Regions from separate parts of the Homo sapiens genome. Here regions 1, 2 and 3 are each linked to region 4. Evidence: fine-mapped expression QTL. A gene starts in region 4. Each other region holds a variant in brackets. All regions are shown on one strand. Distances are between the middles of the regions.

Evidence for each region. PIP is the estimated chance that this variant, and not a neighbour inherited with it, causes the effect.
Region 1: its variant is the best candidate, but not a certain one, in a credible set for the expression of NR3C1 in whole blood (INTERVAL, PIP 0.80).
Region 2: its variant is the best candidate, but not a certain one, in a credible set for the expression of NR3C1 in whole blood (INTERVAL, PIP 0.89).
Region 3: its variant is the best candidate, but not a certain one, in a credible set for the expression of NR3C1 in whole blood (TOPMed, PIP 0.60).

What each region holds. Positions count from the first base shown.
Region 1 is chr5:143,372,916-143,377,915 of GRCh38, reverse strand. The region is part of intron 2 of NR3C1 (nuclear receptor subfamily 3 group C member 1); the gene reads left to right. Among named protein-coding and RNA genes, the nearest start is that of NR3C1, 28 kb to the left of the region's middle. The variant A/G (reference allele first, on the strand shown) is at 2,791.
Region 2 is chr5:143,275,605-143,283,524 of GRCh38, reverse strand. NR3C1 (nuclear receptor subfamily 3 group C member 1) reads left to right here. Exons shown (of 9, transcript NM_000176.3): 8 at 800-957; 9 at 1,484-5,591. The coding sequence ends at 1,636. Among named protein-coding and RNA genes, the nearest start is that of ARHGAP26-IT1, 87 kb to the right of the region's middle. The variant G/AAG (reference allele first, on the strand shown) is at 2,406.
Region 3 is chr5:143,121,070-143,128,997 of GRCh38, reverse strand. It overlaps ARHGAP26 (Rho GTPase activating protein 26), which reads right to left. Exons shown (of 23, transcript NM_001135608.3): 18 at 7,851-7,928. It overlaps LOC124901098 (a long non-coding RNA gene), which reads left to right and starts at 3,426. Exons shown (of 2, transcript XR_007058980.1): 1 at 3,426-6,028; 2 at 6,351-6,471. The variant A/T (reference allele first, on the strand shown) is at 4,163.
Region 4 is chr5:143,400,942-143,408,594 of GRCh38, reverse strand. It overlaps NR3C1 (nuclear receptor subfamily 3 group C member 1), which reads left to right and starts at 4,909. Exons shown (of 9, transcript NM_000176.3): 1 at 4,909-5,384. LOC128966704 reads left to right here and starts at 34. Exons shown (of 2, transcript XM_054328421.1): 1 at 34-3,261; 2 at 3,679-3,929. The coding sequence starts at 2,954. The coding sequence ends at 3,709. RefSeq lists enhancers at 2,704-2,753, 2,474-3,240, 3,074-3,313, 3,714-3,853, 3,894-3,963 and 1 more and silencers at 4,014-5,283, 5,524-5,603, 5,814-5,913.

The DNA.
Region 1 (5,000 bases), 29 kb after region 4:
TCAGCTCCCTCAGACATATTTGGGATCCAAGGATATTTTCCCAAATGATTAATGCTAATTTCATATCAATACATTTTTGCAAAACCTACAAAAATGGACTAGTAAAGAAAGACTCTTAATTTGGGAAAGACAGTTACTTGGAGAGAAGAGAAACTTAAGAGGCAGGTCGAGTTCAGTGTTCAGAAATGAGAGGATCATAAAGAGATAGCCATAAAAATGTTTCTCCCTATATTGCCTGCTGATAGGGTGTATCAGTGAAGGTCTTACTAAGGACCTTGTACCTTTTCAGCGCTGCACTGCGTGCTCATAGGGAGGAAAGATAAATCATGTGTTTTTTCTGACCTCAAAGGAGCCTGTATCTGGCTAGAGAGACATGATGCAGACACATGAAATAATTAAGAAACAATTAACTGTAGCAGGTGCTGAAGAATATACCAGGAGGTCAGAGAATGGTAGAGCTAGTGTGGGCGAAGGTATAGCCCAGAGCATCATCAGATGATTCTTCCTTATGCAAATTCACATCTCCTCTGGGTCAAGTATCATCCTGGCATGCAGCAGCTCCATAGGTAATGCCCTAAGGCTAGCCTGAGGCAAGTTGCAAAAGCCATCATATTGAGTCATGGCCTTTTTTTGTGTGGGGGGAGGGGAATGGCATCCCCTTCCTGTCTGCCAAATCAAGGAATACAGTGCCCTCCTAAACCTGCTTTGTTTTAGTGGATTGTTAAAAAGAAGTGAATGAATTTATGCTTCATTAGGGAAAGGTTACAGTGGAATACTGAGGAGTAAGGGGTATTTCTATTTAACAAATGACATAACTTGAAGGAATGAAATCATAAGGATGGAATTTCAGGCATTAATAAAAAGCTGATGAGAGATACTTTGAGACAAAAGAGCCTTCCCAGTGTAACCGAGATCACAGCACCTACTTCACATACACAGGAAACCAGTCCTATCTGTCTCTCCCATAGAGCAGTAGCTGCCTTGTTTTTCCTCCCTCCTCCATCATTCATTCTAAATCTCCAGTCCTCCACCGCACCTTATCCAAACCCTGATACCCTTAAGTCACAGATGGTGAATCAGTCAAAAGTAGTATTAAAAACTAGTGGTACACAGCTACACCTGGAATGCAGTAAGAAAAATACGGATTTCTGTACATCATCTTCCCTCCCTGCTCTTACCCCCATTTAAGAGTTACAGGGTCAGAACCCAAGAGTCTGAGTTTTTGAAAGTCCCTAAAAATTTTGGATGATCACCTACATTTAGAACCACTGCACTAAGAAGGACAACAAATATGCCAATAAATTCTGTTGCCAAGGAGGTGATTATGCAAGCTGGAACCCTGATAACATGAGGAGAATCCCACAATAGCCAAATAGTCCATGTACTAGTTACATTATAATAAAGCCAAAAGCAGCAGGCCTACCTGACTTTCTCCTGAGGTCTATCATGAGCTTAGAGAGAAGGAACGTGGACATATAGAGGTAGCTCTAGATGGAGAAGGGCACTAGGTGTCATGGAAAGAATCATGTGCAAGAAGTAAAGAGGTGCTCTGAATGTCCTAGCCCTGCTTAGGTGTCTGTGTCCTCACATGAGAATTTATCCACAGTTCTTTCCCGCTGTAACAATCTTTGGTTCCAACTGCATTTGTGAGACAGCAAAAAGCTATGGTCCAGTCTCCTTCCATTGTATCATCTCATCAATGTATTTCTCCCACTACCCTTGTGTGAAATACAAACTTTTTTGGCTTATTGTGATTATGCAAGGTGTATGCCAACTTTTTTTTTTTCTCCACATCTTTCAGCTTTCTGATGGGTAAAAATTTTCCTTATTTTGCTTTAGAAAAATTCTCATTGGCATAGATCTAATTTCAGGGAGCCTCCCTTGAAAGCTAAATAACATTGAGAATTCATGAAAATATAATGTAGAGCATTATGCCTGTTAGCATATTAGTTTAAATAGAAGTGGTTCATGAAAATTTTTGAAATGCCAGACCCTGTCCTGTGTTTTGTATTCTCCCAAATACTCATCCAGATACTGTTCAGAATGTAACATGATTATTTTGAAATAAAGATTTTCCCCTAGTTTTTAAAAAAGTTACTTTATACATTAACCCTTATGTTCCTCTTTGATCAATTTTTCCAGTAGTGTAAACAGTCTTCAGGGAAGTAGATTTCTTACAGAAATTGTCAAGTGGCTCTCTGCTGTTAGCATGGTTACTAATCTTTTGGTTACTTTTCATATTTTTTATACTTTCTGGAAGTGGACAACTTACTTGTAAATAAAAGTGCATAATTTGTATTAAAAATTTTTAGTAACAATCTAATTTGTAAAATAGATGTGAGCAGCATGAATGTGTGTGATATGCGTACATACGAATTATGTCTCTTAAAAATGTATCACAGACATCTTTCCGTGTCCAAACAAATCTACCTCATTCTTTCTAATAGCCATATGGGTATACCATAATATATTTAACTAGGCCCCTATTAAAAGAATTTTGACTCTTTTGTAGCTACTATAGTGTTGCAGTGTGTATCTGTGTATGTATCTTTGTGTGTGTATCTTTGTACGAGTGTACATATATTTTCCCCTTGGCTATTTCAGATTTTTTTTTAGGTTTAAATCTTAGGAAAGGTTTTGAAATTGTCTTAAGTATTTTCAGAAGCATTAAATCATGGTTTTTTTACATTTTTCTTTTAGAAGTTTTATGTCATCTCTATGAGTAGCTTTCAGTAATTTGTTCTGCATAAAATTCCCGAAAACTTCCATTTAAAAATAGGTGGCATGACT[A/G]GACTTTCTCAGCCGAAAGAGTGAGGTCCCAGGAAGGATTTTGGAGAAGCTGTGTTCAAATATAGCTGCTGACCTGATGTCTGCCTAGAGTCTGGCAAGGTGATGTGTTGAATCTAGTGTCTGCCTGCATGCCAGCATCCCTTTACTGATGAGATTTGTGGTTTTCATCACTTCATGGTAATCATCCCAAGTTATAAGATGGAGTCTCTAGAAAATCAGTAGAGTATGAAGGCCCAAGTAAAATACATGTGAGTGCATGTATGTGTGCATACAAATTACTTCTCTTAAAAACGTATCCTGGGCATTTAAAGAATGAGGACCTCCGAAGGATTTTGTGGAAGCTGTGTTCAAGTACAGCTGCTGAGCGTATGTCAGCCTGGAGCCTGGCAAGGTGAAGTGTTGAATCTAGTGTCTTTTTGACTCACTGTTTTTTTTGACTCACTGTGCTTTGAAGCCCTTGTCATTTGGGCTCATAAAATAGATTTCTGTATACTGTCTCTCCTCCCTGCCCTCGCCCCCATTTAAAAGTATAGTGGCAGAACCCAAGAATCAGAGTTACTAAAAACTCTCTAGAAAATTTGGATGATCACCCACCTGATCATGTCTTTTTTACTCACTATGTTTTTTTTTTTTTTGAGACAGAGTCTCGCTCTGTCGCCCAGGCTGGAGTGCAGTGGCATGATCTTGGCTCACTGCAAGCTCCGCCTCCCTGGTTCACGCCATTCTCCTGCCTCAGCCTCCCATGTAGCTGGGACTACAGGGCCTGCCACCGCGCCCGGCTAATTTTTTGTATTTTTAGTAGAGTCGGGGTTTCACTGTGTTAGCCAGGATGGTCCCGATCTCCTGACCTCGTGATCCACCCGCCTCGGCCTCCCAAAGTGCTGGGATTACAGGCGTGAGCCACCACACCCGGCCCTTTACTCACTATGTTTTTAAGCCCTTGTTTTCATTTGCTCCACTGTAAAACATTCCCCAAGCCAATCTGGAGCTGAGGCAAATTTTTAACAATTTAAAATCTGGGGAATATAAATATTGGATAATGATCATCCTGAAAAAACAATGAAGGTAGTAGCATAATACTTTATATATCAATAAAATGGCAAAATAAGACAGTTGTTGAAGGACAGAAAGAGTAACTGAAGTTAGGAGCTTATCTTAACACATTTTTTGTGTCATACCATAGGCATCATATTTTTTAAATTTTTTTTATTTCATACACATAGGAAAATATATGTGTGTAAGAAATAATAAACACCTCTTTGTACCTACCACCCAACTTAAGGAACAGCTCATTGCTATTCCCTTTGGTGCTCGCTGGATGCCCTTTCCCAGTCACATCCCCCTCCCTTCCCATCTGCAGGACTATACTAGTAAATTTTGTATTTTTTGCATTATTTTGCTTTGTTTTATGATTTTACTACCTATCTACATATCCCTAAATAATACATTATTTAGTTTCATATGTTTTAACTTTATGTTGTGGAATCACATTAAATGTAGTCTTTTTTTTTTATATTATACTTTAAGTTCTAGGGTACATGTGCACAACGTGCAGGTTTGTTACGTAGGTATACATGCGCCATGTTGGTTTGCTGCACCCATCAACTCGTCATTTACACTGGGTATTTCTCCTAATGCTATCCCTCCCCTAGCCCCCCACCCCCCGATAAATGTAGTCTTTATAACTTGTTTTTTTAACTCAACATTGTTTGTAAGATTCATCCATGTAAGCTGAAGCTTTTTTATAGAGATCTTTGTTAAGCCTTTTAATGAATACAGTACATACATTTCTCTGTTCCCCTGTTAGTGGACACTTGGATTGTTTCCAGAGTTTTGCTGTTTTGAACAACGCTGCTGTGAAAATGTCTCCTGAAACACATTTATAAGAGTTTTTTTTTCCCCAAGGGAATTATACCTAGAAATTGAATAACTAGATCACAAGGCATACACATCTACAACTTCTGCTAGGTAATGCCAAATTGTTTCCAAGGAGCGTTAGAAGTGTTCTCATCAACTTTTACTAGTGCTAGTCTTTTACATTTGTGGCAGTATGGTGGGTGTGAAATATTTATGTTTAGTTTTTCTTGGTGCCATTTAATAATTTTTATAAAAAATATTTAGAAGTCAAGGCAGTTTTTTGTTTTTGTTTTTATTTTTTGCTTGTTTTGTTTTAATGCAGACATTGAGATTACGACTTGGAATAAACATTG
Region 2 (7,920 bases), 130 kb after region 4:
ATAAACACTGTTGTTGAAGCCTTCTATCTATCTCAGTACTAGAATTAAACTCAAGTGCAGAATGGCAGACAAAGTTAACTAAAAATCACTGTATTATTTCATTTGGTCCTCCAAATAGCTTTGTGAGCTAAGGAGGAGAAGGTGTATCATCACCACTTCCATTTTATAGATGAGAAATCAAGTGATTTACTCAAGGTTAAGTCCTCCAATTCTTTGTTATCCTGCATTTTCTCTTGGCTGTAGTTTAATTAATAATCCTAAGAAAATGCTTATATTTTAGAGTGCAGTAAGAGTACATAAACAATGTTAAATGCCCATCTTGCATGTATAAAAAGTTATAGCAAGAAATCTGGCTGGGAATGGTGGCTCACACCTGTAATCCTGGCACTTTGGGAGGCCGAGGCAGGAGGATTGCTTGAGCCCAGGAGTTTAAGACCAGCCTGGGCAACATAGGGAGATCCTGTCTCTACAAAAAAATTTAGCCAGACACAGTGGCTTGTGTCCTAGCTACTCAGGAGGCTGAGGTGGGAGGATCACTTGAGCCAAGGAGGTCAAGGCTCCAGTGAGCTATGATTATGCCACTCAGACATGGTGGCTTGTGCCTACAGTCCTAGCTACTCAGGAGGCTGAGGTGGGAGGATCACTTGAGCCAAGGAGGTCAAGGCTCCAGTGAGCTATGATTATGCCACTGCACTCCAGCCTGGATGACACAGTGAGACCCTATCTATCTCAAAAAAAAAAAAAAAAGAAAAGAAAAGAAAAAGAAAATCCTTTAACTGACTTCATCTTAACCTTTTAGTTCCTAAGGACGGTCTGAAGAGCCAAGAGCTATTTGATGAAATTAGAATGACCTACATCAAAGAGCTAGGAAAAGCCATTGTCAAGAGGGAAGGAAACTCCAGCCAGAACTGGCAGCGGTTTTATCAACTGACAAAACTCTTGGATTCTATGCATGAAGTAAGTGTCAAACATAAAGCCAAATATAAGAGTTTTCTGGGACAAAGTATGTTTTGATTAGTGAATATAATTATATACCAGCAGCGCCCCCACCCCCGCCCCCAGTTTGTGGATGTTGGTGATAGCTTGAGTTCAACTTATGAACTTCAGTTTTGTAGACATTTTTCCTAAGGCCAATTATGAAATATCCTTTCACCTAGTCATGTGTATATAAAATCACCATGTTATTACAGAATTTAGTAATACTGTTTTTAAAAAGTATGATTAATCCATTAAATTAGAATAATGCACCCTTCATATATTATGGTACTACAGTGATTCATGAAATAATTCTATATAATTCTACATACAATCAAAGAAATATAAAATGTGTTTTGTACGGAAGTGCTTATTTTTCATCTGGGGAATTCCAGTGAGATTGGTATATTCTAGGCCAGATAATTTTTTCAAAATAGAGGACAACAAACATGAGATGTTCCCACTGACCAATTTGGAAGCCTGATCATTACCATATCTTCTCTTGCAGGTGGTTGAAAATCTCCTTAACTATTGCTTCCAAACATTTTTGGATAAGACCATGAGTATTGAATTCCCCGAGATGTTAGCTGAAATCATCACCAATCAGATACCAAAATATTCAAATGGAAATATCAAAAAACTTCTGTTTCATCAAAAGTGACTGCCTTAATAAGAATGGTTGCCTTAAAGAAAGTCGAATTAATAGCTTTTATTGTATAAACTATCAGTTTGTCCTGTAGAGGTTTTGTTGTTTTATTTTTTATTGTTTTCATCTGTTGTTTTGTTTTAAATACGCACTACATGTGGTTTATAGAGGGCCAAGACTTGGCAACAGAAGCAGTTGAGTCGTCATCACTTTTCAGTGATGGGAGAGTAGATGGTGAAATTTATTAGTTAATATATCCCAGAAATTAGAAACCTTAATATGTGGACGTAATCTCCACAGTCAAAGAAGGATGGCACCTAAACCACCAGTGCCCAAAGTCTGTGTGATGAACTTTCTCTTCATACTTTTTTTCACAGTTGGCTGGATGAAATTTTCTAGACTTTCTGTTGGTGTATCCCCCCCCTGTATAGTTAGGATAGCATTTTTGATTTATGCATGGAAACCTGAAAAAAAGTTTACAAGTGTATATCAGAAAAGGGAAGTTGTGCCTTTTATAGCTATTACTGTCTGGTTTTAACAATTTCCTTTATATTTAGTGAACTACGCTTGCTCATTTTTTCTTACATAATTTTTTATTCAAGTTATTGTACAGCTGTTTAAGATGGGCAGCTAGTTCGTAGCTTTCCCAAATAAACTCTAAACATTAATCAATCATCTGTGTGAAAATGGGTTGGTGCTTCTAACCTGATGGCACTTAGCTATCAGAAGACCACAAAAATTGACTCAAATCTCCAGTATTCTTGTCAAAAAAAAAAAAAAAAAA[G/AAG]CTCATATTTTGTATATATCTGCTTCAGTGGAGAATTATATAGGTTGTGCAAATTAACAGTCCTAACTGGTATAGAGCACCTAGTCCAGTGACCTGCTGGGTAAACTGTGGATGATGGTTGCAAAAGACTAATTTAAAAAATAACTACCAAGAGGCCCTGTCTGTACCTAACGCCCTATTTTTGCAATGGCTATATGGCAAGAAAGCTGGTAAACTATTTGTCTTTCAGGACCTTTTGAAGTAGTTTGTATAACTTCTTAAAAGTTGTGATTCCAGATAACCAGCTGTAACACAGCTGAGAGACTTTTAATCAGACAAAGTAATTCCTCTCACTAAACTTTACCCAAAAACTAAATCTCTAATATGGCAAAAATGGCTAGACACCCATTTTCACATTCCCATCTGTCACCAATTGGTTAATCTTTCCTGATGGTACAGGAAAGCTCAGCTACTGATTTTTGTGATTTAGAACTGTATGTCAGACATCCATGTTTGTAAAACTACACATCCCTAATGTGTGCCATAGAGTTTAACACAAGTCCTGTGAATTTCTTCACTGTTGAAAATTATTTTAAACAAAATAGAAGCTGTAGTAGCCCTTTCTGTGTGCACCTTACCAACTTTCTGTAAACTCAAAACTTAACATATTTACTAAGCCACAAGAAATTTGATTTCTATTCAAGGTGGCCAAATTATTTGTGTAATAGAAAACTGAAAATCTAATATTAAAAATATGGAACTTCTAATATATTTTTATATTTAGTTATAGTTTCAGATATATATCATATTGGTATTCACTAATCTGGGAAGGGAAGGGCTACTGCAGCTTTACATGCAATTTATTAAAATGATTGTAAAATAGCTTGTATAGTGTAAAATAAGAATGATTTTTAGATGAGATTGTTTTATCATGACATGTTATATATTTTTTGTAGGGGTCAAAGAAATGCTGATGGATAACCTATATGATTTATAGTTTGTACATGCATTCATACAGGCAGCGATGGTCTCAGAAACCAAACAGTTTGCTCTAGGGGAAGAGGGAGATGGAGACTGGTCCTGTGTGCAGTGAAGGTTGCTGAGGCTCTGACCCAGTGAGATTACAGAGGAAGTTATCCTCTGCCTCCCATTCTGACCACCCTTCTCATTCCAACAGTGAGTCTGTCAGCGCAGGTTTAGTTTACTCAATCTCCCCTTGCACTAAAGTATGTAAAGTATGTAAACAGGAGACAGGAAGGTGGTGCTTACATCCTTAAAGGCACCATCTAATAGCGGGTTACTTTCACATACAGCCCTCCCCCAGCAGTTGAATGACAACAGAAGCTTCAGAAGTTTGGCAATAGTTTGCATAGAGGTACCAGCAATATGTAAATAGTGCAGAATCTCATAGGTTGCCAATAATACACTAATTCCTTTCTATCCTACAACAAGAGTTTATTTCCAAATAAAATGAGGACATGTTTTTGTTTTCTTTGAATGCTTTTTGAATGTTATTTGTTATTTTCAGTATTTTGGAGAAATTATTTAATAAAAAAACAATCATTTGCTTTTTGAATGCTCTCTAAAAGGGAATGTAATATTTTAAGATGGTGTGTAACCCGGCTGGATAAATTTTTGGTGCCTAAGAAAACTGCTTGAATATTCTTATCAATGACAGTGTTAAGTTTCAAAAAGAGCTTCTAAAACGTAGATTATCATTCCTTTATAGAATGTTATGTGGTTAAAACCAGAAAGCACATCTCACACATTAATCTGATTTTCATCCCAACAATCTTGGCGCTCAAAAAATAGAACTCAATGAGAAAAAGAAGATTATGTGCACTTCGTTGTCAATAATAAGTCAACTGATGCTCATCGACAACTATAGGAGGCTTTTCATTAAATGGGAAAAGAAGCTGTGCCCTTTTAGGATACGTGGGGGAAAAGAAAGTCATCTTAATTATGTTTAATTGTGGATTTAAGTGCTATATGGTGGTGCTGTTTGAAAGCAGATTTATTTCCTATGTATGTGTTATCTGGCCATCCCAACCCAAACTGTTGAAGTTTGTAGTAACTTCAGTGAGAGTTGGTTACTCACAACAAATCCTGAAAAGTATTTTTAGTGTTTGTAGGTATTCTGTGGGATACTATACAAGCAGAACTGAGGCACTTAGGACATAACACTTTTGGGGTATATATATCCAAATGCCTAAAACTATGGGAGGAAACCTTGGCCACCCCAAAAGGAAAACTAACATGATTTGTGTCTATGAAGTGCTGGATAATTAGCATGGGATGAGCTCTGGGCATGCCATGAAGGAAAGCCACGCTCCCTTCAGAATTCAGAGGCAGGGAGCAATTCCAGTTTCACCTAAGTCTCATAATTTTAGTTCCCTTTTAAAAACCCTGAAAACTACATCACCATGGAATGAAAAATATTGTTATACAATACATTGATCTGTCAAACTTCCAGAACCATGGTAGCCTTCAGTGAGATTTCCATCTTGGCTGGTCACTCCCTGACTGTAGCTGTAGGTGAATGTGTTTTTGTGTGTGTGTGTCTGGTTTTAGTGTCAGAAGGGAAATAAAAGTGTAAGGAGGACACTTTAAACCCTTTGGGTGGAGTTTCGTAATTTCCCAGACTATTTTCAAGCAACCTGGTCCACCCAGGATTAGTGACCAGGTTTTCAGGAAAGGATTTGCTTCTCTCTAGAAAATGTCTGAAAGGATTTTATTTTCTGATGAAAGGCTGTATGAAAATACCCTCCTCAAATAACTTGCTTAACTACATATAGATTCAAGTGTGTCAATATTCTATTTTGTATATTAAATGCTATATAATGGGGACAAATCTATATTATACTGTGTATGGCATTATTAAGAAGCTTTTTCATTATTTTTTATCACAGTAATTTTAAAATGTGTAAAAATTAAAACCAGTGACTCCTGTTTAAAAATAAAAGTTGTAGTTTTTTATTCATGCTGAATAATAATCTGTAGTTAAAAAAAAAGTGTCTTTTTACCTACGCAGTGAAATGTCAGACTGTAAAACCTTGTGTGGAAATGTTTAACTTTTATTTTTTCATTTAAATTTGCTGTTCTGGTATTACCAAACCACACATTTGTACCGAATTGGCAGTAAATGTTAGCCATTTACAGCAATGCCAAATATGGAGAAACATCATAATAAAAAAATCTGCTTTTTCATTATGTGACTCCAACATGCTTTTGTAGAACTTGTACAGTTCCGATTGTCCAATCTGATTTTTGTTTACTGAAAGTAGAGTTACCCCTGCTTCAGGAACCTTAAGATAATATGGTGGGCATTTAAATGTCAGTGTGGCAATGTTCGCCTGCTAATATGGCATAGATTCAAAATAAGCTTAACCCTGGTGCCAAAGACCTGAAGATTATCCCATCCATGCCTCAAATGGTTGTGTGCCAATTACTGCAAAGGGTACTAAGGGAAGGAGAAATTCACTCCTGAGGCTGCTTCAAATGTATGTCTTTATCACAAAAGATGACATTTTATGTAAGCTAATGTTATCTAGTCAAAATTCTTAGCTTATTTTAAAATCAACTCTTCAAGAAAAGGAATAAACATTTAATATAAATATCATAGCAGTATTGCACATAGAATAGAAAGGTCGGGCAGGGTAGTGGAAGTCAGCTATTCTATACAATCCATTCGGTATTTTCCAAAACATTTGATGTTCAGGCCATATCCAGGAACTGGATGACCTAACAAACTTCTCTGAGTACCTTTTTTTCCACAAGAGATCTCCATCACTAAGAAAAAAAGCATTGTGATTTAAAAGCCAAATTTGCCTTATCCATCATCATGTGCACCAAGTATTTGCTACCTGCCTACTATATAATATTGAAGATACAATGTGAATAAGAAAAATACTATTGCTACCCTCAATCAGAGTATGTGATTGGAAAAGTGTATAACAAACCTTTCCCAGTGTCTTCAGGTATAATGCAGAGATACCAGATACGGCATCAATGTGTATACACATTATGGCTGTACCATTCACTTTAAGTAGTAACCTTACATTTCTGTAGAACACCTTCACATACATTTTTAACAAGCCTCACTGAATGAATTAATGACATGAAAATAATGAGGCAGATTATTCTCGTTTCCATTTTATAAGGAAGTAAACTCTGTAAGAAAGTAAACAGGCTCAGAATTTAAGCACTGATTCATAGCCCCTAGCTCCCATGTTATTGAAATTTGAATGGAAAGCCTCTAATGAGGCCATTCATCTATCAGATGTCAAAGAGCATGTCTCTGGCCTATGAGCCTCTCAGGGAACTGGTTATGTTTTTCTGTTTTAAATTAAACTAATGCTTTACTGAGCACTTACTATGTGCCACGCACAATGATAATTCAATATATTATTTCATTTAATCATAGTACCCCTCTAAAGTACTACTGTAAAGCAGTGCTATTATCCTCATTGCATTTATATCAGGAAACTGTGGCTTAAAGAATTGAGTAACTTGCCTACAGTCACAAAGCTAGCTCCAGAATCCATAGTTTTAAAAACCACTATTGAGAAATTACTAATATGAGCTAACTAGGGCGAATGAACCCATATTGATCATTATGTGTCTGGCCTTTTGACATGTCCTCATTTAATCTAATCCCTTTTGCTACCGTATCAATTTTGACTTAGAAATTTAACAATGATACATTAGTCCCCGCTTATCTACGGAGGATATGTTCCAAGACTCCCAATGGATGCCTGAAACATAGATAGTACTGAACTGCATGTTTTTTCCTATATTACATACCTATGATAAAGTTAATTTACAAATTAGATGCAGCAAGAGATTAACAATAACTCAATTACAACAATATACTGTAATAAAAGTTATGTGAATGTGAGCTCTCAAAAAATCGTACTATACTGAGGGTAACTGAGACCACGGAAAGTGAAACCGCAGATAAGGCGGGCACTATTGTATTTCCTTCTCTTAAAAACGTGTCCTGTACCCTGGGGTGGTTGATGGTGGAAAATACTAGTTGCCCACAGATTACAGAATGCCCTTTGGTTTGTCTAATATACAACAGGGAGCCTGTCTCACTAATGCCCACAGAAAAATCAAACATTTCTTCAAGTGATATGGAGCATATAGGGTACAGTCAAACCAAGGAAGAAAGTTGTTTATAAATGAGAACTATAGTGCAAGTTAAAATTTGCTCCTAGTTTTGCAGGTAAAGAGCCAGACTTTGGGTGTAGAAAAAAAGTTGAAAATACTGAGGCTTTTACATAAGGTGATTTTTTTTTTTTTTTTTTTTTTTTAGAATTTCAACTAATCTCTTTTAACTTAAGTCGTTCTTAACAGTATTGGTAACTTCATAGCACTTTCTTTCTGGTGAAATAACCCCATCCTCCCTCTTATTTAGGCTTCCTGTTTCCTAGTTAAAATGGGGCAGTACTTTGTTAGGGAAGTATTTTTACTTCACTTGGTTACAAACATGTAAGTCTCAGAACAAAAGAGTTTGTGCAGACCATATCAGACA
Region 3 (7,928 bases), 280 kb after region 4:
CATGCGCCTGCAATTTAAAAGGATTAGGAGTCTCCCTGTAATGTGTGTGGTGTACTCTTTATTATGTGCTGTGATTTTTATGGGAGGGAAATTAGGTCATGACGAAGAGCTCCTAGTCTACAACTGCAAAGTAGCTCTGAGACAATAAATCAACAGCAGAGGCCTGGGGATTACAAAGCAAAACAGAAAGGTTTATACGAGAAATGAGACTGAGCATTTTCTCGAGACACAAATGTACCAGGGTCCCTAGTAATGTGGGATTGGTTTGTTTGACGCATTAGGAAAGTAGACCTACAACAGTTGAGCACAGCTCACTCCTTCTCATGACAGACAATGGGACCGAGGACTGCGTGGTGCTCTCAGAGAAGCCATAAACCCAGCACCTTCACAGTGGAAGCCAGGCAAGTCTTAGCAGGGCTTATGTATTGTAACTGTTAAGAAGCCAAATTCAGAGGCTGTAACTGCAGAGGTTTTTTAAGGACAGTTGGAAGTCCTATGTCCTGTTGATATCAGCATTTTGGCAGAGGGATCAACAATTTAGAAAGTAGTTTGGGTAGTTGTATTAAAAATCTCTCAAAAGGAACCAATTACATTAGTAACTGAGGGTATATATAGACAGCTTGGGTAATCCATGGAGAGCTGTGATTTTCCATATCTCCAGAAAGATTCTATTTCCTGTTCTCTTTGCTGACAAAGATGGATAGATTAAAATACAACAACAATCTCCACCTTTATTTGAGTAATATTAAAGGAGCTTCACAATTCAAACAATTATTGGTTTATCTGGGATTTATTGGGGGGAATATATGTGTTCAAATGCACAACCTACCTTATCACATTAATGAAGAGTATCTTACACAGCACTTGTCACTAAAAAAAGAAAATAGCCCTGTGGCAGAAGCATTCTAGCTCAACACCCAAGTAAATCTAGCTTGCTTCTGAACCCTAACAAGGAGAGGAACAAAAAGAGTACAAGCAAGAACCATTGGAAGGGAAGTCAACAAAAAATTTAAAAATAAAAATTGATGAACAAATTACAAAAGCCATGACCACAGGACAAGATTAGCTTCCTGAGCAGGCAAGAGTACCAATGACTATTTCAACATAGTGAAGCATCCAGTCATACCTTTTTATTAATTTTGCATATCAACAACTGTTTGAAATATCAAAGAAATAAAATGCGACTTCTAAACACCTGTCAGTTGCCAAACCAACTATATTAACTAATGTACATTTTGTGCACAAAGTCCAGAACTAGTCCAATGGATTTCAATGTCACCAATATTTTGGTAAAAGCAGATCAAGGCAGATTGGTGGCCCAAATCAACTCAAATTGAGCTAACTACATTGTAAGTCACTAGCATTTTATTGGGAATGCGAGGTTGCTTAGGATTTAGTGCTTAGTCCAGGTGTTAAGTGGGGGTCATCCATGATTGCTAGCTCCTCTCCTTGACATCTGAGGTTGAAAGTTAACACATTAAAAAGGGGCACCGATCTTTGGGGATTTCTGAGAATTAACAGCTCAATGATCAACACTCCCACCTCTTCCAAAGCTAACTGATGGACTAGGGAAGGAATTATTATAACTTATTTTGTCAAACATTAATAGGCATCAAAAGAGGCAATGCTGGCAAAAGCCTGTGGTACATAACACATGAACACACACATATCCTGCTCCATGTACAGAAACCGTTTCGAGTGCCACAGCCACAAGACACAGCATGGATTGTTACAGAACAAGTGCAATCCTACTATTATGTGTTGGAATTTAATAGCAAGGGGACACACACACACATACACTAAGTAGCCTGAAATTTCATGTTGAACCAAAACTATGAAAAGCAAGCAGTTTGTTTTCTTGATATGGTTGTCCTTCTTAAACATCTAAAATTGTCATAGTCATTAGCAAGTAAGCGTTTAAAACACTAAGTAAAGGGAAAACCTTGTAATAAATATAATTTCTGGGCTTTGAGATCTTGGACCATGACAGCATTCAATATTTTGTTTGAAAATCTTAGCTGGAAGCATAAAAATATTGGTTGCTTTAACCATAACCTTAAGTTTTTGCCTACTTTATGTTTTAAGACTCAGTGTGATAAGGTGTGAGTTTGGAGAAAAGATTCTGTTCATACGGAAATGGTAATTTTGCATAACTGACTGCTACCTTAACATAGCGTGGGAAGAGCCAAAATCTTTGCCATCTGAGCTTTCAACTCAGAAACTTGACTGTAGCTAAAAAGAGCTACACCATCAAATCTACTCTTTAGTTCTCATATAATTCAAGGAGAGTCCACGGTAAGGAGTCACTAATAGGAAATGATGCTATGAGCTAGTATTTCCCCTTAGGAAGTCTGGCAAAAAGAAACAAATTAAGAATCTCTCTCTAACCTCCAAGCAAAGCCTGTAGGTCAAAGGTGACACTATCTGAGCTGCAAGTTTAGAACAGTATGGTTAACTCTATTGTGTTATTTGTTTAATGTGTGATTTTGATGTCAGCAATCAAAGTACTATTTGGTTCAGCTTCCAAGGATGTCTTTCTAAAGTGCTGACATAATCATTTTAGCCTCCACTTGGAAACTTCTGAGAGCTCCCAGTTTTCAGAAGTCAGTTCAAAACCTTTTCCTATAGTTTTCAGGACCCTTAGCAAATGGACTGAATCCAACTCTCTGGCATCATCACCCACTACTTGCTAACAACCCACAGTCTTTCACAACCATGCCATTTTAATACAAACAACTTGATTAATGCTGCTCCTCTGAGTGGCTGTCCCTCCTATCTCTACTCTTTCTCTGCCTAGAAAACTTCCATTGATCTGTCAGAGCCCAATGCCAGTAGAATTAAATTATTTATCCTCAGTGATGCCATAACACTTTATTCATCTTACTGGAGGTCATTTAGCACACTGTATTATAGTTAGTTCTATCTTGATAAAATGGGAGTGCCTTGAAAAATGAAGGACCTATTTTACTTATCTTTGGCTAATGGTAGATATTCAATAAAATGCTTACTGCACTGAAAAGAGATTAACTAGAGTAGATTTTAATAGCTTGGGTTCTGAGAGTAGTACTAAGTTCAACCCCTGTTCCTCTCCTAATCAGCTGCTTCTTAAAGTGTCTGCACTTCAGGCTTATAATTTGTAAAAACAGAGCTAAAAATATCAATTTTATAGGGTTGCTGTGAAAATTGAATGATGGATATAAAGCTGCTTAGCACAATATCTTGTAAACAATAAGCTGTAAGTAAAAGTTAGCTATTACTATCATCATTATTATTTCTGGACTGTATTCATTTAAAGGATTCATTAATTTTAATTGAGTAAACAATCAGTATGTATTACCAACATGGAAAAAGAAAAATTTCCATGAGCCCCCAAACATAATATCATATCTCCTAGCTGTTTTCCTCTCTGTCTCCTCCTAATCTAGGATATTTATTTCCCAGAATTGTGCCAAACACTGCTTCCCTCCCAGGTCCGTGAGAGAGGTGGAGGACAGAAGTTCTGGACCATTGTGACAGGGTAAGCATGTCGTTAGTGCACTCTATCTGACCAAACACAAGTTGTGTGTGAAACACATCACTATGGCTCCCAGGAGGAAGATATAGATGGATTCTCTGGGTTGGGGGGAGAGGGTGTTTCTAGACTTGCAGGTACTATCTTGAGGATGTGTGGGTGTGAGTGACAAAATAAAGGAGATCATGTTCACTATTAACCCTCAGCTGAATGTCTAATGTTAACCCTTGGAAAACAACAGAAAGACAGGTAGGCAAAGAGAGAAAAGATTGTATGCCTTAGCTAGTTAGAACACAGAGGTCTCTTACCTTCTATTGAAAAAGAGGTGTTTTACCAGGTTAAAGAAACTGAATTACCCACTTCTCTTTCCTTTTTCTTTAATGCCAATCTTAAAAATGTTTTTCCAATTTTAGATATTTATGAGTTGGTTCTCCATACCAAGGCTCACAAAGGGCATTTAAGGGCTGAAATTGTCACTACCACCAGATGCCTGAGGCTCCTGGTTGAATAAAAAATGGCAATGCAGAGAGGAGGCGGAAAAGCACTCTCCATAAAAACACTGGGTTGCTACCCATGCTCAGCACAAACCACTGATAAGAAAGCAGAGTCATTCCTAAAGGGAACTAAATGCAAACTTGCTGGGTACCATAG[A/T]TCCCCTGCAGAGATAACGGTCAACAATCCTCCCACGCCTGTGTGCACACACTGCTCCTCCCACCCAGAGGTGGCATCTAGCTCCCCCTGCCTTGAATCTGGCTGGACTTGTGACTTGCTTTGGCCAACAGAATGTGACAGAAATGATACTTTGCTCCAGGCCTAAGCCTTAACAGCCCTTGCTGCTTCTGTGTTTGCCCTCTTGGAACTTGGGGCTGGACTCCTGAATGATGGGACAGCACCTGGAAAGAGGGGGGTCTTGTGGCAGAGGATCAAGGCATTCTGGTCAACACCTAGTACCAAAGTCCCAGCTGTGTGGAGTGAGGCCACCTTGGACCCTCCAGTCCCAGTCAAACCAACCCAGCTGATACCACAAGGGGCACACATAAGCCCTTCTCAAATTTCTGACTCACAGAATTGAGAGTAATAAAATAATTGCTATTTTAAGTCACTAGGTTTGGAGATGATTTGCTATATAGCAATAGAAAATTAAAACATCTCATGGCTCTCTTCGTCTCTCCGTCAATGGAGTGGCTCCAATGGCTAGATGCCTAGGTTTCCACACCTTCTTTTCAGTGCTATGTTCCATTTATTCCTAGAGCCCTCCTAATGATTATTCCGAAGCACAAAGTAAATACCTTATATAAGATGTTAACAACATGAGAGAATACTGTGCTAGTCGCTATGGGGGGTATATACTTTAGCCCTGTAGTAGGGCTTGTTTCAAGCAAACTTGTTTCACATGAAAAGGTGCTGCTGGAAAGCATTTCTTCAAATAGGGTTTCAGGATTTTGTCTAACTTTTGACACTAAGACTAGACAGAAGAAGAGTCACCCCTAGACATTGTGTGTTTGTGTGTGTGTGTGTGTGTTTCTATTACAGAAAATTAAAGCCAAGTCTAAGGAAATGGTTGGTAAGTATTAACTAAGACCTTAAATACTATGAAGTTTTATGTTCTAAAACATTTTATTTATTTATTTTAGATGCAGGATCTCACTGTCACCCAGGTTGGAGTGCAGTGGTGCAATCATAGCTCACTGTAACCTTGAACTCCTGGGCTCAAGTGATCCTCCCACCTCAGCCTCCCATAGCTAGGGCTTTAGGCATGTGCCACCATATCCAGCTGATTTTTCATTTTTATTTTTTGTAGAGATGGGGGTCTTGCTATTTTGCCCAGGCTGGTTTCAAACTCTTGGCTTCAAATGATCCTCCCACCTTAGCCTCCCAAAACACTGGGATTACGGGTGTGAACCACTGTGCCTGGCCAACATTGTGGATTTTAAAGAGTAAGTCTCCGACAACATCCTTCTGAGGACATAAAATTGCTCTGGATTTGATGGTTAAAGTTAAGTTCTATTGGCAGGGAGTTTATACAAAGTGTTATCTCCAGAAAGCCAGAGGCCAGAGCACAGCCACGGATGCTTAGAATTGCTGTGAGTTGAACACCACAGACTTCCAAAAAAGACTGAGGGAGCATCTCCTTACTTCATACCAGGCTAGGCCTGAAGCTACAGTGAAAAAGGAGTCAAGATGGCTTATTCCAATTGCTCTCACAAAGACGACAAACCCTATGAATATGAAGGATGACCTTCCCAGAGTAATGTACATGTTCTGTTCTCAGAAGTCAAATACCATGACTTTGGCAATATTCTATTGATCACATAGGCTAGCTCTATTCAGAGGTGGAGGGGGCTACACAAGGGAATGAACACTGGTGGACAGGATCACTGGGAGCCATTTTGGAGGCTGGCTGTCACATTCACCCAAAACCAATGTACTAGTGCCTACTGAGGAACAAAACACAACGTCCCTGCTTTCCTGAAGCACACATGCTTGAAGAGGTCAGAAAGCCAATGGATCTAATCAGTAAGTAAATTTTATTACATGCCCTATAATTTGTGAAGTCCTATGTGTTAAATAAAATTGATAGGAGGCCACTGGTTTGGACTGAGCTCCTGCCCTAGGCTCAAGAGACCAAATCAAAATGCAGTTACTTCTGCTGAAGTTCTATGCCATCAAGCCAAAAATAAGTTGTTTGTCTGACCTTCCAATAAATGAGGGGAGAGATAACAGGCAAATCCCCAAACAGGCCAGTTTTAGTCAGCACTGAAGGAAGTCCCCTCTGCTTTAACTTTTACAAGGAAAGTAACTTCAAAACAATTAATCTGCTTTTTGTTCTCTTCTTTAGCCCTTTTCTGTCTATAAAGCCAACCTCCTCTGCTCAGCTCCTGGAATATTCATTCTATTTTACAGAATGAGGTGTTGCCCAATTCTAGAATCGCAAATAAAAGTCAATTAACATCTTTAAACTAAACTTGTTGTGATTTTGTCTTTTGATATGAAAACAGACTAAGTGGAATAAAAGGAAAAGGGAATGCAGGAAGTTGGGATTATAATTTTAAACAGAGAGATCTAGGTAGGCTTCACTTAGTACACTTGAAGGAAGGGAGAAGTATGCCATGTGGTTTTATGGAAGAACAGTGTTCCAACCACTGGGAACAGCAACTGCGAAGGCCTTGAAGTAGGAATGTGCCTGTGGTGTCCAAGAAACAGCAAGGCAGAAACAAGATGGCTATAGGAGAGATGCAGGAGACGAGATCAGGTAGTAACAGTAAAAGGACAGAGACTATGTGGGCAAATGTATGAAATGGGAAGCCACTGGATAATTCTTAGGAGAAAACTGATACCATCTGGCTTAACATTAAAAAAAATCTCATTCTGGTGGCTGGTATCAGAATTGTCAGGCCAAGGGTACAAGAAAGAAACAAATTAGGAGGCTCTTGTAAAAAGTCAGACAAGAGGTAGTGGTGGCTTACAACATTATCAGTGTACGTGGTGAGGCATGGTCAGATTCTGGATTTATTGTGCATGATTAATTTGCCATTCTAGGCAAAGTTTTTATTTAAGAGAAACAGCATTTTTTATTAGATTCCAGATTTGTTGCTGCCAAATGGTGCTTTAGGGAACCCTGCACAAGTTCTGAGAAGCTTCATATGGATTTGCTCATAAGAGCAATGAAGTGGGTGAGAGGACTGCAGCTTTATGTCCCCTCCCCAGTTTTACAAGGGCAGCTCTGCGTTAATATTCTTCAAATTGGGGGATGAGGAAAACCTTCGAAAGAAAGACTAGGAACCCCAATTCCCCAAAAGAAAAGACAGACCATAAAGACACGCGCACACAAACGGTACAAAAAATACAACACCATTTATAAAACTGAAAGACAAACTATAGGTCAAAATATTTGCAACACAAATGAAGAAAGTTTAATATCCCTAAAATTTAAAAAACTCATAAATTCATAAGAAAACAATCAAGTAAGAAATGGGCAAAGCATGTTTCCAAAATGAGGTTCATAAGAGTACTTCCTTCATTGAATTGTTGTGAGGATAAAATAACAATATACATATAAAGTATTTAACACAGTTCCTGGCACATAATGCTCAATCAATTTTACCCACCACTGCCACCACCATAACCATGGCTGTTGTCATTGTAACTACCACGGTTGACACCTTTACCACCAACCTTACATTATCATCACCACCATCACTACCACCACCAGCAACTTCATCGTCATGACAGTGTAAGAGTGATTAGCAATGCAAATCTGAGCCAACTCTGAAGGTCAATTCCAATGCAGCTTCCCCCCAGGTACATTCTTCACTGCAAGTGATCAATTACATATTACCTTTTCGTGGTTTTCTATTAGGATCTCAATGACAATGTTCTGAAATTTGATGTCCATGATGGCTGCTACTGTTTCTTC
Region 4 (7,653 bases):
TGGGTCCCATGGCCGAGATATCTCATTATAATGCAAATATTCCAAAATCAGAAAAAAAAAAATCCAAAATCTAAAACACTTTCAGTATTAAGCATTTCAGGTCATGGATACTGAATGTGTATCTTTAATTTCTTGTTCTACTTTGTTTAAAAAAAAGGGGGAAAATAGTAATTCTACAGATGAATAATAATTGCTAATGATGAGCAAATACTTCCTATGACCCAGGAATTCGTCTAAGCACTTCACATATATCAAACTGGTTTAATCTTTATAAATCAGTACTATTATTATCCCCATTTTACAGATGATGGAAAAAGGCACAGAGAGTTAGCCTGCCCAAGGTTACATTCCTTTTAGTGGTGGAGACTGTATTTGGCCTTTATAGTCTGGCTTTTAACTGCTACACTATATCAATGCATTACAGGTATAGTTTATACACACACTAAAGAAGACATGGAACTCCAGTCAGTGGGCTCATAAAAGCTTTAGACCTTCATCAAAAGATTAGAAAATAAATGTTCAATCACAGGTTTTAGGTTTCAAAAGTTTCAAAAGTTTAAAGTTTGCAAGTTATCTTTCTTAAAATTATTTCCTTCTTTTAACTAATTTTTAAATTAAACTCCAGTTCAATCACATCCACTAGAAGGCTTCACTTTCTACAAAGGGGTAGGTAAAGGTGATGATCTTAAATACCATACTGGGAGTTGGGATCTGTGTAGCACTAGAATCAAGAGTTATTGTATATACTTGAGAAGGAGCACAGCCTGATTTAGTTGATGTTTTGGAGGGGTAATCTGGCAGTACAGCTTGGATTATTTTAGTGGGAATGGAGATGACAAAACATGAAGAGAATGGGAGAACTCACTTGGGTAATATATCAGTTTCTGAAATCAATGTATCAAGTGGTTTGGTTATTAGTCAGGCTTAAGGTTTTATTGGCCTTAGGACATAGTCTCTAAGACCATATATTATCTTCATTCATTCATTTAACCAACACCCACTGAGCACCAACTATGCACTAGTGATACAGGGGTGAACAAACAGACACAGTCCCTGCCTTTGCAGAACTTATGTTCTGGTGGGTGATACAGAGAAATAACAAATGAGGGCACAAATAATGAACTATCATTGTAATGTGCTAACAAAGTATGCAGAATACTATAAGAACATACAATCAAGAATCTAATCTAGTTTATTTTAAAAAAAAGTGGGGGGAGCACTCAGATGTTTAAACACAAAACAATAAAAATGAGGATCTTGAGGGTTATCTGTACACTTTTTATTAACCCATTTGGCCACAACAATAACCCAGTAAAAGTGATTTTACATCTAGTTAACTAGTTGACTCAATGTTATTATAACCCTGTAATGTATTTGTTGGGTGCCTGCTATGTAGTGGGCTGTGTTCCAGGAGTGGGACATAAAGCTATGACAAGATAGATCAGGTCCTTGCCTTGACTGAGTCTGAATACATCACCTTCATTTCCACCTCTGCTTCTAAGACAATCAAATACCTTCCCACTCAGATAGGGATTCATCCTATTTCTTGTAGTAATTATAAGTTCCCAGGGTTACAGATTAGTAAATGCCATACCTAAAGACTTAGGATACTGTGCATAAAACACTTTCAATAGTGTCTGTCAGACAGCAGATGCGCAATAAATGTTGACTTTCGTTAGAATTGTGTTATTATTATAATGCTAAATCTCACGTCCTTTCTGGCACACTGGAGTTCATCTCTTCAATTAAATTCCGTAAGCACATATTGTAAGTAGTCTATCAGAATTGATATACTACTTCATGTTAATGATTGAGATCAGTGAGGAAAACCACTTTAATATTGTCTAATTCCTCTCTTAATGCATAGGAGCCATGTGAACTTAGACAAGCATCAACCTCTGTAAGCCTGTTGTCCTCATATTGAAAAATCGAATAACAATACCTATCTCATTTAATTGTTGTCAGCAAAAGTGGGCAGCAGAAGAGTGGGGATCAATAAATGTTAGCCACAAATCATAACTATTTGTATTACTCTGAAAAAGAGGGGTTAACTTATAGTTCATGCATGCTTCCAAATGAATGTGAAAGACTAAAGAATGAGAATTTTTTTGCTATCAAATTAAAAAATTAACAGGCACATTTAGATTGCTGAAGAGAGAAATTAGGATAAGTTTTTTTTTTTTTTTGCTCAATTAAAAACGTTTTCAATGGCATATTTAAAACTACGTATTCTTCCCCATTAAGATCTGCAGAGAAAAAAAAATGAAGGGAGAATAATTGGGAACTCTTGTGAAATCATAAATTATTTAAGCAGAGTACCTACCACTAAGGATTTGAGCATGTATGAGCGATGAGGTGGATTCTTAGAGCAGAGATTCAGCAGTGAGACAGGCTAATGGCATGGGGAGATGTGTTCTATTAGACAACTGTATTGTCCCCTTAATTATATACATATATATGTATATAATATATATGTGTATACATATGTATACATACATGTATATATAAATAGAATTCTTAATCATTTTAAGCAGTGTACAAGGATAATTATTAGCATGGGCTATTTAACTCACTTTTAAAACGTGTAAAACATTATTGTAGGGTTGGGTCTTGATTTGTTTCCCATGAAACTGTTGGTAGTTTAGGGGCCAAATTAACGAAAGACATCTCATTCTAGTGCTTGAGGCTCAGAAATTGGAAAAACGGGCAACTAGGTCAAGCAGTGTTCTCATAGCCTCACAGATGAGCATCCAAAGCAAGGGCCTCCTTCTAGTTGACTTGTGCCAAGGGACAGGAGAAGCGGAGTCTGCCTTCTGGGTCCAGAAGGGGGTTTTGTTAACATGGAGTTGCTCAGCGCCCTTCATAAAAATTCTTCTGGCTGAGGGTTCTACGTTGGCATACGGTTGGTTCCCTCTTCTTTTCCGAGGTGGCGAGTATCTCTTCCTTTGCCAAGATGGCGGCTCCAGAATCCTCTGGAGGCGGCCCCCGTAGATCGTCTCCGGACAAGAGGCTTGCTGAAAGCCTACTTCTTTCCTTTCACATCAGACAATGCACAGGGAACCGTTTACCCTTGAGAACCAAGGAAGGACGGCTTAGGCTACCCGCGATCGCGAACCTTTGCCAAGATGGTGGCCGCGGGGACGGGCTGGCGACACTGTACCCTACCAAGATGGCGGCGGGCGGCTTCCGGGACGCGCTTCCCCAATCGTCTTCAAGATGTCAGAGCAGGGGGAGCCGCCGTCAGTCTGAGCGCGGCGGGAGGTGAGAGAGTGGCTGTGGCCGAGCGCCCGAGCAGGATTAGGTGGAGCTGCGGCAGCCCCCGCCCGTGTCAGGAGCTGGCAAGCGATGTCACCTGTGGGGGCGCAAAAGTTACCTCCCCAAACCCTAAACCCACACAGCACAACCTTTCCCAGAGTCACAAAAATCATAATCTGTGCCGCACAAGGTAGGAGGCTCGGTCCCGGCATCGTCCAAGCCTTCCCGACGCGGCGAGCTGGGGAAGGGAGCTGGGGCGGGGGCTTCCCGCACGGGCACCCCTCGCCCCACGGCCCTCTCCTTTCTCAGGACGGACCACGAGTTCCCTTCCCCTTGGACTGAGGGGGAAGCTCCTAACAGGAACATCTGTAGGGAGTTGAACGCTGGCATTTTAAAGCTGCCTGTATTTTGTTTTATTTGTAGGGGCAGGGGTCCTATGAACGTGATAGGGTGAGCAACGCACAGAGTCGAGGGCAGCAAATGTCAAGATTCGGGGGTGGGGCCTGCACCGGGAACTTGGACGCGGGCCCTGGCCGGGGTGGAAGAAGAGGTCAGGAGTTTCGGAAGGGGGGCTATATTTCGCCAGCAACTTACTATTTCGCCTGCAACTTGCTTTTAAGCCTGCCGCCCCCTGCTTTCCTTAATCATAATAATAAAAAAAAAGTGCAAAGAAATCCAGCTCGCTGGAGGTTTTGCATTTGGCGTGCAACTTCCTTCGAGTGTGAGCACATTGGGCGGGAGGGGTGGGGGTTGAACTTGGCAGGCGGCGCCTCCTTCTGCCGCCGCCGCCGCCTCGCAGACTCGGGGAAGAGGGTGGGGGACGGTCGGGGCGCGGGGGAGGGTGGGTTCTGCTTTGCAACTTCTCTCCCAGTGCGAGAGCGCGGCGGCGGCAGCTGAAGACCCGGCCGCCCAGATGATGCGGTGGTGGGGGACCTGCCGGCACGCGACTCCCCCCGGGCCCAAAGTACGTATGCGCCGACCCCCGCTATCCCGTCCCTTCCCTGAAGCCTCCCCAGAGGGCGTGTCAGGCCGCCCGGCCCCGAGCGCGGCCGAGACGCTGCGGCACCGTTTCCGTGCAACCCCGTAGCCCCTTTCGAAGTGACACACTTCACGCAACTCGGCCCGGCGGCGGCGGCGCGGGCCACTCACGCAGCTCAGCCGCGGGAGGCGCCCCGGCTCTTGTGGCCCGCCCGCTGTCACCCGCAGGGGCACTGGCGGCGCTTGCCGCCAAGGGGCAGAGCGAGCTCCCGAGTGGGTCTGGAGCCGCGGAGCTGGGCGGGGGCGGGAAGGAGGTAGCGAGAAAAGAAACTGGAGAAACTCGGTGGCCCTCTTAACGCCGCCCCAGAGAGACCAGGTCGGCCCCCGCCGCTGCCGCCGCCACCCTTTTTCCTGGGGAGTTGGGGGCGGGGGGCGAAGCGCGGCGCACCGGGCGGGGCGGCCACGCCAGGGGACGCGGGCGTGCAGGCGCCGTCGGGGCCGGGGTGGCGGGGCCCGCGCGGAGGGCGTGGGGGCAGGGACCGCGGGCGCCCCTGCAGTTGCCAAGCGTCACCAACAGGTTGCATCGTTCCCCGCGGCCGCCGCGCGGCCCCTCGGGCGGGGAGCGGCCGGGGGTGGAGTGGGAGCGCGTGTGTGCGAGTGTGTGCGCGCCGTGGCGCCGCCTCCACCCGCTCCCCGCTCGGTCCCGCTCGCTCGCCCAGGCCGGGCTGCCCTTTCGCGTGTCCGCGCTCTCTTCCCTCCGCCGCCGCCTCCTCCATTTTGCGAGCTCGTGTCTGTGACGGGAGCCCGAGTCACCGCCTGCCCGTCGGGGACGGATTCTGTGGGTGGAAGGAGACGCCGCAGCCGGAGCGGCCGAAGCAGCTGGGACCGGGACGGGGCACGCGCGCCCGGAACCTCGACCCGCGGAGCCCGGCGCGGGGCGGAGGGCTGGCTTGTCAGCTGGGCAATGGGAGACTTTCTTAAATAGGGGCTCTCCCCCCACCCATGGAGAAAGGGGCGGCTGTTTACTTCCTTTTTTTAGAAAAAAAAAATATATTTCCCTCCTGCTCCTTCTGCGTTCACAAGCTAAGTTGTTTATCTCGGCTGCGGCGGGAACTGCGGACGGTGGCGGGCGAGCGGCTCCTCTGCCAGAGGTAAGAAGCGAGGCGGGAGGGGGCCGGGGCGCGCTCGCTCCCCCGAGGTGCCGCTGGGACCGGAGACAACTCGGGGGCCGCCGCGGGAGCCTACAAACTTTTATTAGCCTCGGGGAGTGGGGGTGGGGGGCTGGCAAGGGCCGGGCGACGGTGACGAAAGGGCAGCGCGCGGGTGACAGCGCTGGCCTCTTCCTCTCCCTCCGCAGGCGTCCCCTGGCCGGGCCGAGGGGGAGGAACCTGACCTCGGACGGCGAGCGGAGCCCTGTCGAACTGCCGGGGGCTTCGAGCCTCTCATTCCTCGCGGGAATCCTGGCCTCTTTTCTCCCCCTAGTGTCCCCTTTCCCTCCAAGGGGGTCGCCCGACACCCGTTTTCGTGGTGAACGCTAAGCCGCGTCTGAATTTTACTCGCCCGAATATTTGCACGCCACCCCGGCGCGCCCGAGCGCGAGCCCGGGCTCCGGGGAGGCCCCGGCGGCGCCTGGCTTGAGGAGGGCGTGCGGGGCGCGTGAGGGTGCACACGCGGGGGGCTGACAGCCCGCAACTTGGAGACTGCGGCCGGGGCCGGCGTTATCTGTTAGAAGTGGGCGTGTCGGAGAGAGAACTCAACAGGTCTGGACGTACTTCTCTTTTAACCTCGCACTTTTTTCTCTTCTCCACCCCCGCCCCGCAAGGGCTTGCTCTTTAGCGTTTGTTGTTAATTCGCGCCTGAGGTTTCTAAGTGGCCCCTTTTAGAAAAAGACCCCCTGTAACCGTAATGGTTTTGTGCTGCGATTTTTACAAGTGCTAGTTTGACGTTTGGGGTTGCAGACTTGATAATTGCAACCTTGTAATACCACTTAAGACCCTCTGGCATGGTTCATTAGGGCCAATTAATGTGGCTGGGTTATTTGCAACTTAAACTGGGGGATAATGTCGCTTGAGGGAGCGTTTTCGTTTTAGGAAATATTGTTTTGGTTTCGGGTTTGAAGGCAGCTGTCAAAAAAGCGGCATGGAAATTCATTGGGCTCCATTCGATACCTCGTGTTTAGAGATCGTTATCGCCTCAGATAAACGGGGCAGAGAGGTGGGGAGATAAGCAGTTTACCCTCAAGATTTGTAGTGGCAAGTCCACACCCCTCTCTCTACCTTCATATTCACTTTTCAGTGAGGGCCAGTGACATTTATGCTGCCTAACGTCATCGCATAGGAAAAGTTACCTTTTATTGGACGGGATTTGACTATAGTGTCCCAAATGCGCTTCTCCGTCTTAGCCCATCTCTTAAAACACCCTGATTAACGATATACTAACAGTCTTACTCTCTTGAGAATAGGCTGAGAATTGGGATAGGTGAAGGTTTGGATAGGTGAAGGCAGAGAAAATTATTTTGAACATTTTACTGGATACAGTTGTACCTGAATTTATATGAATGTGATTTTACGGTTCTGTGTTTTTCCATTTTTCAGTACTTCGATATTTGTTTGGAAAGGAAAGAACTTAGAGATGTAATAGCATTTCATATTGAGGATCTCAAGCAATGTAAACAAATGTAGCTTAATCTAGATGTTTTTGTGAGTTATGATAAGGGTCAGCTATATTTAAGTTATGTAAGCTAACAACGTAGTGAGAAACTACTACACCTTCTCTTCTGCTCTTTAAAATCTAAATTTTAGTTGGCCTATATAAAGTGTATCTCATTTCATATATCCAAAATTTGGAGGTAGGCACATCCAGTCAGAAGTATGGGTTAAAAAGCCTTTTCCCAGCCTGTCGGAAGATAAGCAGATCAGCATTGTTTATTTTTCAAAGAAAACGTGCATGGTTCACCAGTTGGTTGTACTCAAAGGTTTGGATGTGTGACTAGCTGGTAGGAGGGAAATTTGGAAGTAATTAGGGATTGAGAATTCTAGCATAGTATTTATCAAATGTTATATGTATTGGTTCTCAGAAAAGCAAACAGCCGTGATTGAAAAGAGGTAGGAATTTTAATGATCACACTTCCTTTTTTTGAAATTAAATACTTTGACATCAACTTGAACCTTCAGAATAATCAGATGTAATGAATTATAATGTCTGTGATTAACAAAGCTACACGTTCAGTGAGCGGCAGGATGAATAGCCAAGCTTAGTTCGATACACTTTTGCCCTCAGCTGTGCAAATGGATTGCATTGTACTTTTAAATGTGGCATGCTGAATGGGAGCAGGGGACATGGCTTTTTATTCTGGAAGATAGAAACTACTCTTCTGGTAACAAAGAATTTGATTCGGAGTTAACTAAAAGGTTCATTTAA